Homo sapiens: one gene and its partner. The gene in region 1 interacts genetically with each later gene. Each region holds a gene or a part of one and is shown in the gene's direction. Other genes may lie near its edges.

Region 1 (5,313 bases):
TGGAGGGGGTGCCTCGGTGGCTGGAGGGCAGGGCCTGGTCGCTGAACTGCAGGGCGCCTCCTCTCCCCCCTAGATCGAGGAGGACGCCTACCAGGAGGACCTGGGATTCAGCCTGGGCCACCTGGGCAAGTCGGGCAGTGGGCGTGTGCGGCAGACACAGGTAAACGAGGCCACCAAGGCCAGGATCTCCAAGACGCTGCAGGTATGGGCCAGACCCAGGTGGGGCTGGGGACCGAGGGACACAAGGTGGGGGGAGCCCAGATCGCAGCCTCCCTGTCCTCCCCACAGCGGACCCTGCAGAAGCAGAGCGTCGTATATGGCGGGAAGTCCACCATCCGCGACCGCTCCTCGGGCACGGCCTCCAGCGTGGCCTTCACCCCACTCCAGGTACCTCCCCTGGGCCGGCTCTGTCCCCAGCCCTGAGACCTTGGCAAGGCCCCTTGCCCTCTGCCCCTGTGAAGAAGGCCAGGATGAGTCTCCTCATGGGGCTGTTGTGGAGGGTGTGGTGACGAGGTATGCAGAGGACGTAGACAGCTCCTGGCACACAGGAAGAGGTTAGCAGAGACGAGAGCCCAGCGCTGAGCAGTCCTCGTGAGCACGCACTGCTTTAGAACCAGGCCCACAGCTGTGTTCAGGGCACCCAGTTCCTCTGTCGGGCTGTGAGCGGGTAACACTGCTCAGCCTCCAGGCCCTCCAGTTCAAAACGGCCAGGACGGTTAAGGTAACCTCAGGACCCCACTCGAGAAAGTTCCCGGCTAGGCGGGCTTGGATGTCAAGTGTGGGTCCAGGCCCCAGCCAGTCAGCAGTGAGCAGCGTGGAGCATGGCAGTCACCGCATCGTCGGAGCCTCGGTTTACCATCCACAGAGCAGGGCGAGCCTGCACCACGGAGGCGAGACAGCAGCGAGCTCATCTGCCCAGTCAGCGGGTGTCTACGCAGCACCTGCTGAGTTCTGTCAGTGTTCCCGGCTCTGGGGATGAAGCAACGAATGAGAGACAAGTCTTACCTTCTTGGAGCCAGTGGGTGGCCGGGCGCAGACAGCTCAGTAAGATGTCCAGTGTAGGAGAAGGCAGAAATGCCAGGCCGGGCGCAGACAGCTCAGTAAGATGTCCAGTGTAGGAGAAGGCAGAAATGCCAGGCCGGGCGCAGACAGCTCAGTAAGATGTCCAGTGTAGGAGAAGGCAGAAATGCCAGGCCGGGCGCAGACAGCTCAGTAAGATGTCCAGTGTAGGAGAAGGCAGAAATGCCAGGCTGGGCGCAGACAGCTCAGTAAGATGTCCAGTGTAGGAGAAGGCAGAAATGCCAGGCCGGGCGCAGACAGCTCAGTAAGATGCCCAGTGTAGTAGAAGGCAGAAATGCCAGGCCGGGCGCGGTGGCTCACGCCTGTAATCCCAGCACTTTGGGAGGCCGAGGCAGGTGGATCATGAGGTCAGGAGATCGAGACCATCCTGGCTAACACGGTGAAACCCCGTCTCTACTAAAAATACAAAAACTTAGCCGGGCGTGGTGGCGGGCGCCTGTAGTCCCAGCTACTTGGGAGGCTGAGGCAGGAGAATGGCGTGAACCCGGGAGGCGGAGCTTGCAGTGAGCCGAGATCGCGCCACTGCACTTCAGCCTGGGCGACAGAGCCAGACTCTGTCTCAAAAAAAAAAAAAAGAAGGCAGAAATGCCAGGGAGGGGAGGAGGTGGAAGGTAGGAGGTGGGACAGGGGAGGCTCTCGTTTCGGAGCAGCCAGGGAGGGCCTCTTTGAGAAGATGAGGCCAGTGGCTGTGCCTTTCCAAGCCTCCCCTCCTCCATCATGAGGTGCTCAGGACTGAAAAGAACGCACAGGAAGCACTTGGCACTGGGCTCACCATTAGAGCCCAATGACTGGGTCCTGTTATTATTTTTAGAGACGGGGGCTCGCTCTGTTGCCTTGAAAATATTTAGGAAGTGCCAGCCAGGTGTTGGCTCCCATTGCTGCCACTATGATCGTCAGTGGTGTTGGTGTGATTTGTGCTAGGACCTCGGGCCAGCCATGTCCCCCAGGGACTCAGTTTCCTTATGCAGAAACTGGGCAGGATTGGCTGTCCTCAAGCATTGGTTGTTTTTAGCACCCCTGAGGAACTTCGTACAAATCCAGGCGCCCTGGTTCCTCCCCACCCTCTCCCTCTAGACCCACTGAGTCAGAATCTCCCAAGACAGGGCAACTCCAGGGACAGGCAAACTGTCTCATGCCCACCAAGGCCTGAGTGCCATGGGGAAGGGCCTGGGGGGCTCTGATGGGTCACAGTTGGGGCCTTCTCCTCACCTAACCCATCATCCTCTCTCCCTCACCTGCCCAGGGCCTGGAGATTGTGAACCCACAGGCGGCAGAGAAGAAGGTGGCTGAGGCCAACCAGAAGTATTTCTCCAGCATGGCTGAGTTCCTCAAGGTCAAGGGCGAGAAGAGTGGCCTTATGTCCACCTGAATGACTGCGTGTGTCCAAGGTGGCTTCCCACTGAAGGGACACAGAGGTCCAGTCCTTCTGAAGGGCTAGGATCGGGTTCTGGCAGGGAGAACCTGCCCTGCCACTGGCCCCATTGCTGGGACTGCCCAGGGAGGAGGCCTTGGAAGAGTCCGGCCTGGCCTCCCCCAGGACCGAGATCACCGCCCAGTATGGGCTAGAGCAGGTCTTCATCATGCCTTGTCTTTTTTAACTGAGAAAGGAGATTTTTTGAAAAGAGTACAATTAAAAGGACATTGTCAAGATCTGTCCTTGGGGAGTGATCATTTTTCAAACAGCCGGGGCAACTAGAAGAATCAGAGCTGTGGAGCTTTGAGAAAAGAGCTTGGCCCTCGGGTCCAAGCGGTGTCTAGGCCCACTCCCTTCCCCGTTACTTTCTCGTCATGGGATCCCAGAAGGAAAAAGCCCTCTCCAACCCCCTGGAGAGCCGCAGTCACTTTGATAGCAAATGATGTGGCTGCCAACAGCCGCAGATCTCAGCGCAGGCCGACCGGGATTGCTGTCCACCTCAGGCCAGCCTCCTCACCTTTCCAAGCCTCCACACCTACGCCCAGGTGCCCAGGACTGGAAAGAATGCACAGAAAGCACTTAGCATGGGACTTGCCATCAGCGCCCTATAACCAGGTCCTGTTATGATTGGGTTTTTTAGAGACGGGGTCTCTGTTGCCCAGGTTGGAGTACAGTGATGCGATGAAGCTCACTAAAGCCTCAAACTCCTGGGCTGGGATTACAGGCATGAACCAGCACAGCTGGCCTCCTGGTTAATTTAAATTTTTTTTTTTTTTCTGAGGTGGAGTCTCGCTCTGTTGCCCAGGCTAGAGTACAGTGGTGCAATCTTGGCTCACTGCAACCTCTACCTCCCGGGTTCAAGCAATTCTCCTGCCTCAGCCTCCTGAGTAGCTGGGATTACAGGCATGTGCCACCATGTCCCGCTAATTTTTATAGTTTTTAGTAGAGACAGGGTTTCGCCATGTTGGTCAGGCTGTTCTCGAACTCCTGACCTCATGATATGCCCACCTCAGCCTCCCAAAGTGCCAGGATTACAGGTGTGAGCCACCACCCCAGCCCCATTTTTAAATTGTTTATAGACAGGGTCGTGCTCTATTACCCAGGCTGGGCTTGAACTCCTGTGCTCAAGTGAGCTTTCCACCTCAGCCTCCCTAAGTGTTGAGATTACAGGCTTGAGCCGCTGTGTCTGGCCTCTTATTATTATTATTATTTTTTTTTTTGAGACAGAATCTCACTCTGTTGCCCAGGCTGGAGTGCAGTGGGATGATCCTGGCTCATGGCAACCTCCACCTCCCGGGTCCAGGTGATTCTCCTGCCTCAGTCTCCTGAGTAGCTGGGATTACAGGCGCCCATGGGTTTTGTTTGTTTGTTTGTTTGTTTGTTTGTTTGTTTTTCAGACGGAGTCTTGCTCTGTCACCCAGGCTGGAGTGCAATGACATGGTCTTGGCTCACTGCAAACTCCGCCTCCCAGGTTGAAGTGATTCTCCTGCCTCAGCCTCCCGAATAGCTGGGATTACAGGCGCCCGCCACCACGCCTGGCTAATTTTGTATTTTTAGCAGAGACGGGGTTTCACCATTTGGGCCAGGCTGGTCTTGAATTGCTGACCTTGTGATCTGCCCGCCTCGGCCTCCCAAAGTGCTGGGATTACGGGTGTGACCCACCGCGCCCGGCCGAGATGGGGTTTTACCATGTTGGCCAGGCTGGTCTCGAACTCCTGACCTCAACTAATCCGCCTGCCTCGTCTCCCAAAGTGCTGGGATTACCCTGTGCCTGGCCCAGCCTCTTATTTATAACCAGTGTTGAGGGACTGTGTGGAGCCGGGCACAGGCGAAGCAGGCAGGCTTCCTGCCCTGGTAGGACCTGGTTGCTATAAAAGTCCTGCCAGGTGAGCAGAAGGAGCACACTTCCCCTCCCCTGACCTCCAGTCACTGAGTCTCGGGAACCGGGGCTCGGCCAGGAGCGCCTTTACTTGGACTGAGGGGAATGTGGCCTGCAGACAGTCAGGAGAGTTTCCAGGGGACAGCAGGGGCTGTCCTAGCGGGTGGCATGAAACCGTCTCCCTGGAGAGGTTAAGGAAGAGCAACTCCAGGGGTTCCATTTACTATGTGCTCCGGAGCTGGGCTACACGGTGGTACTAAGGAGGCAGCGCTAGTCACCTGACCTACAAGGTCGGGCTTCTGTTAGTTACCTAAGAGATGTTACCAGGACAAGCAGCAGCCTGGTGGGAAGATGATGCCTCCAGGTCTCTACCTCCTCTCTCTCTCCCTCCTTCTCTCCACCTCCCCTCTCTCTCCCTCCCTCTCTCCACCTCCCCTCTCTCTCTTCCTCCCTCTCCACCTCCCCTCTCTCTCTCCCTCCCTCTCTCCACCTCCCCTCTCTCTCTCCCTCCCTCTCCACCTCCCCTCTCTCCACCTCCCCTCACTCCACCTTCCCTCTCTCCACCTCCCCTCCCTCTCTCCACCTTCCCCTCTCTCCCTCCCTCCCTCTCTCCACCTTCCCTCTCTCCTCCCCTCTCCCCCTCCCTCCCTCTCTCCACCTTCCCTCTCTCCACCTCCCCTCTCCCCCTCCCTCCCTCTCTCCACCTCCCCTCTCCCTCCCTCTCTCTCCTCCCCTCTCCCTCCCTCCACCTCCCCTCCCTCTCTCCACCTCCCCTCCCTCTCTCCCTCCCTCCCTCCCTCTCTCCACCTTCCCTCTCCCTCCCTCCACCTTCCCTCTCCCTCCCTCCACCTTCCCTCTCCCTCCCTCTCCACCTTCCCTCTCTCCTCCCCTCTCCCTCCCTCTCTCCACCTCCCCTCTCTCCCTCCCTCCCTCCCTCTCT
Region 2 (3,500 bases), on another chromosome or scaffold:
TATTTTACATGTAATTTGGATCTTCATGTTAAATTTAACATCAGTGGAGATGGAAAATAAGCATATCGCCTTGTCTTTGAAATAGCCCTATATTGTTAGATTGTTTCTTAGGCTTCTTTACCCTGGGTTAAGCAGTCCTAATACTTTAGCATTTATTCTACATCTAGTGTACTAATTTAAAAAAATCAGTTCTGAAAAATTTCTAAGAACTTTCTTCAAGTTCCAAGCTGTGAAATCTAGAACAGGTCAAAGTGCCTTATTAACGTACTGTACTGTGTAGTGTCTTGAAGAGACACTTTGCGCTGAGGCAAGTTCTGAGGGCATTGGGTGGCCTTGGGAAGATATTTATGCAGTTTAGAACCTGGAGAATTGATTAGATAACTAATCATAAGGAAACGTCACATATTTTTGGTACTATAAAAAAGTGGAGAAATAATGCCTATTTGCAAAGATTTGATTTAAACATAGAAACAACTTTATTTGGCTTCCAATTTTAAGAATTTACAGCAGTAAAGGGGAACAGTCTAATTGAAGTAGACTGCCTATGCAATAGTCTCTGTATATTTACTTTTGACAAGTTAATTCAATGTGTACTATAGTTTTGTTTCTTTGAAGAGGTTTGAATAGTGCACCCATTTTAATCTGTATTGCAAATTCAGGGTTACTTGGCAGACTCTACTATTTAAATCAGATGTAAAAGGAAGTTTTAATATAATTCACTTTATGCCTGAAAGTTTTCCTGGGATTTTGGAAGGTGATTTTACTGGAAATGCTGTCTGTCTTCCCTGAAAATCTGAGAAATTCCATTACACTTTGTTTCCAATCAGAGGTCATGAGTGCTATATGAGTATATACAGCATGACGTCATGAATGTGATAAAGTGGGTTAGGAAACCTTTTGCTAATGATTGTTAAAATGCAATATAAATGTTGAAGAAATAAAGCTAACAGTTAAGCCTTTATTTGGGCGGAAGGCTGAAAAAGTTTATAAACTTAAACCTATAACTCTGCTTATGATTTCTGCCAAACCAGAAGACTTGACTCTGGGAAGCATTGGTTACCTGTGAACTTTGAAACTGACGGTCCCTGACGTAGTTTAGTCACCTGGGAAAAGGTATCTGAGATTATCTCTTATCTCCCAAGTTACAGTGAGTCTCTGAGGGAACTGACACATTACATTAAGTTCTTGGTGTAGTTAAACTGTAAGAAAGGCAGGAGAACTTAGTAGTTAAATAGTTGGTTAAATGGAAATGCTGACTCCATGTTATTGTAAAAAGTTAAAAATTTAGGAGGATATGGGGATTTCACTGCCATTGCAGGTTTTGATTGGTATTTACCAATCCGTGTGGGTCAGAGAGAAAATTAGAAAGGATATGACTGCACATTTTGGAATTATTAGCAGTTTTTCTACATTTAAAATGGAAATAAATTTTTTAAAAATTTAAATCAAGTAATACTGTATTTTTTGGTGATTTAGATTTTTCAAAATTTACACTAAGAGATAGTAAGGAGGGTGGCTATTGTTTCTTTCAATAATGTCTCTGAGAGGTTGTAACTCATCTAAGGATACGTAGCTAATAAGTGGTAGGATTTCAATTTAAATTCTCTGAGACCAAGTTAAGTAGAATTTGCACTGTACTCTTGTATAACTTTTTAAAACTGAAAATTAGCTATCTTTCAAATTAAGAAAATATTTACTAATGGAGACTAATTCAGATTTGTAAGTATACCAAAATTTGAACTTAGCCTGCTATCTAATGGCAACTTAGTGGCAGAGGTATGATGTAAAATCATTCAGGTATGACACATAGATGGAGTATGTTTGTATTCGAGGCTGTGCACATAATCACCTTTACTTGTATTGTGAAGTATATATTGTTATCTTTTATGAAGCCCACTAAAGAGATAATGAAATACCTCGTTATTAGGGCAAGATTATTGAAAACTCAAAATAGCCCCCAAACACAATACTTGGCTAGAAATATATACCTTTATAGTTCAGAGATCATTTATTATCAAAACCCTGAAGTTTTTTTTCTAAGGTAAAATTTGGTGGAAGAGGAAAAGTCTCGTTTTAAAAAAATGTAGGTAGTTACAGAGATCAGAATGATTAGTTGATCACTTACCAAATATATATTAAGTATCTACTGTATATAATATGCTAGTAAGAATAAATATAGCAGGAAGTATTTTTTCCCAGGCTCTAATTGTTTGACATCAGCATGCTTTTATTGTGGCACTTATAATTCAGTTCAAGTATTATGCCCCTCTTTGATGGAACAGTTTCCTATTCAGTAAGGAAGACCAGATTAATCATTGGATTGGTTTGTTTCATCTTTAGTGTTCTGAGCTGTAGAGTATTTATTTACCAAGGTTTATTTTAATTTTTATTTTATTTTTATTTTTCCATGTTCATTGTAGAATTCATTTTACCTACGAATGAAGTATGTAGATTATAGAGAGAAAATTTGTAAAATTAAACTGATACTGAAGACTGGTATAAGAAAAGCCTTATGTAATTTGTAAGCTGCTATTCTTCTGAGTTTATACATATATCTTTAGTAATCAATGAGGGATGGTTGGGTGACTGCCCTCCAGGGGACATTTGGCAACATCTGGAGATGTTTTTGGTTGCCACAACTTGGGGAGAGAGTACTGCTACTGGCATCTATTGAGTAGATGCTATTACTTTAAATGGCAAAGCTGCAGTTACCTTTGCACCAACCTAATATTAAACTTCCTGCAGTGCACGGGAAAGCCCCCACAACAGGGTTATCTGACCCCAAACCTCAATGGTGTTAAGATCCAAACCTTGATATGTTAACCTGTAGCTTTAAACATCCTTTAAATTGTCAAATTCATGTCCCTGACATAAGGTTTATGTTAGATTTTCAAGTATAACAAAGATTTAAACTTTAACTTTTGTACGTTAATGATATGTTAGCTTACTCCAGTCTTCTATTAAAACATTCTGTTTTTAAAATCAGAGACACACAGCAATTTTATAAATCATTTCTCTTCAAGGCTGTGAAGCTCTCCCCACTTTTGTGAGTGCCCTCTACTGGTCAAATTATTTGCTTTATAACAAGTAACAGTGAAATCCTAAGTTTGTGTAGTTTCGCTGTTTAAATTATGGGTGGCATCAATTTATAAATATATTCGTTTTATTTAAAAGTCTTATATGATTGATTTCGTATCATTTTTGCTCTCTGCTAATATTAATATAAAGATTACTGTCTGTATTAGTTAGGCCTAACTAAGTAGGTGAGTATAGTGAACTAAGAAAGGAAACGAGGCAGTATATAAGAAAATAGGGTGGTTCAGTTGTTAACACTTACTGAGCTTACTTTGTTGAAGGGACTAAAAGGCAGCAGTGTGGCTCTCTGAGCTTCTTTGCATGCACTCAGGAGCTGCTTAATGGAGTCCAAGGCTTGGTGGTGTGTTACAGGGGATGATAGGAGGGTCCTATTCAGAAGTGGCAAATTGTGAAAGTGCACATTT

What was found. Genes that interact genetically often act in the same process or in processes that back each other up.
Region 2: changes in PRPF31 (region 1) and KRAS are lethal when combined (synthetic lethality), as found in Homo sapiens cells (3 studies listed by BioGRID, with this or other methods).

The regions. Positions count from the first base shown.
Region 1 is NC_000019.10:54,128,984-54,134,296, forward strand, and holds the end of PRPF31 (U4/U6 small nuclear ribonucleoprotein Prp31), read left to right. Parts: intron 1-73; coding exon 74-202; intron 203-288; coding exon 289-387; intron 388-2,323; coding exon 2,324-2,449; 3' UTR 2,450-2,730; downstream 2,731-5,313. UniProt on the Homo sapiens protein: Involved in pre-mRNA splicing as component of the spliceosome. Required for the assembly of the U4/U5/U6 tri-snRNP complex, one of the building blocks of the spliceosome.
Region 2 is NC_000012.12:25,240,930-25,244,429, reverse strand, and holds part of KRAS (GTPase KRas), read left to right. Parts: intron 1-3,500. UniProt on the Homo sapiens protein: Ras proteins bind GDP/GTP and possess intrinsic GTPase activity. Plays an important role in the regulation of cell proliferation.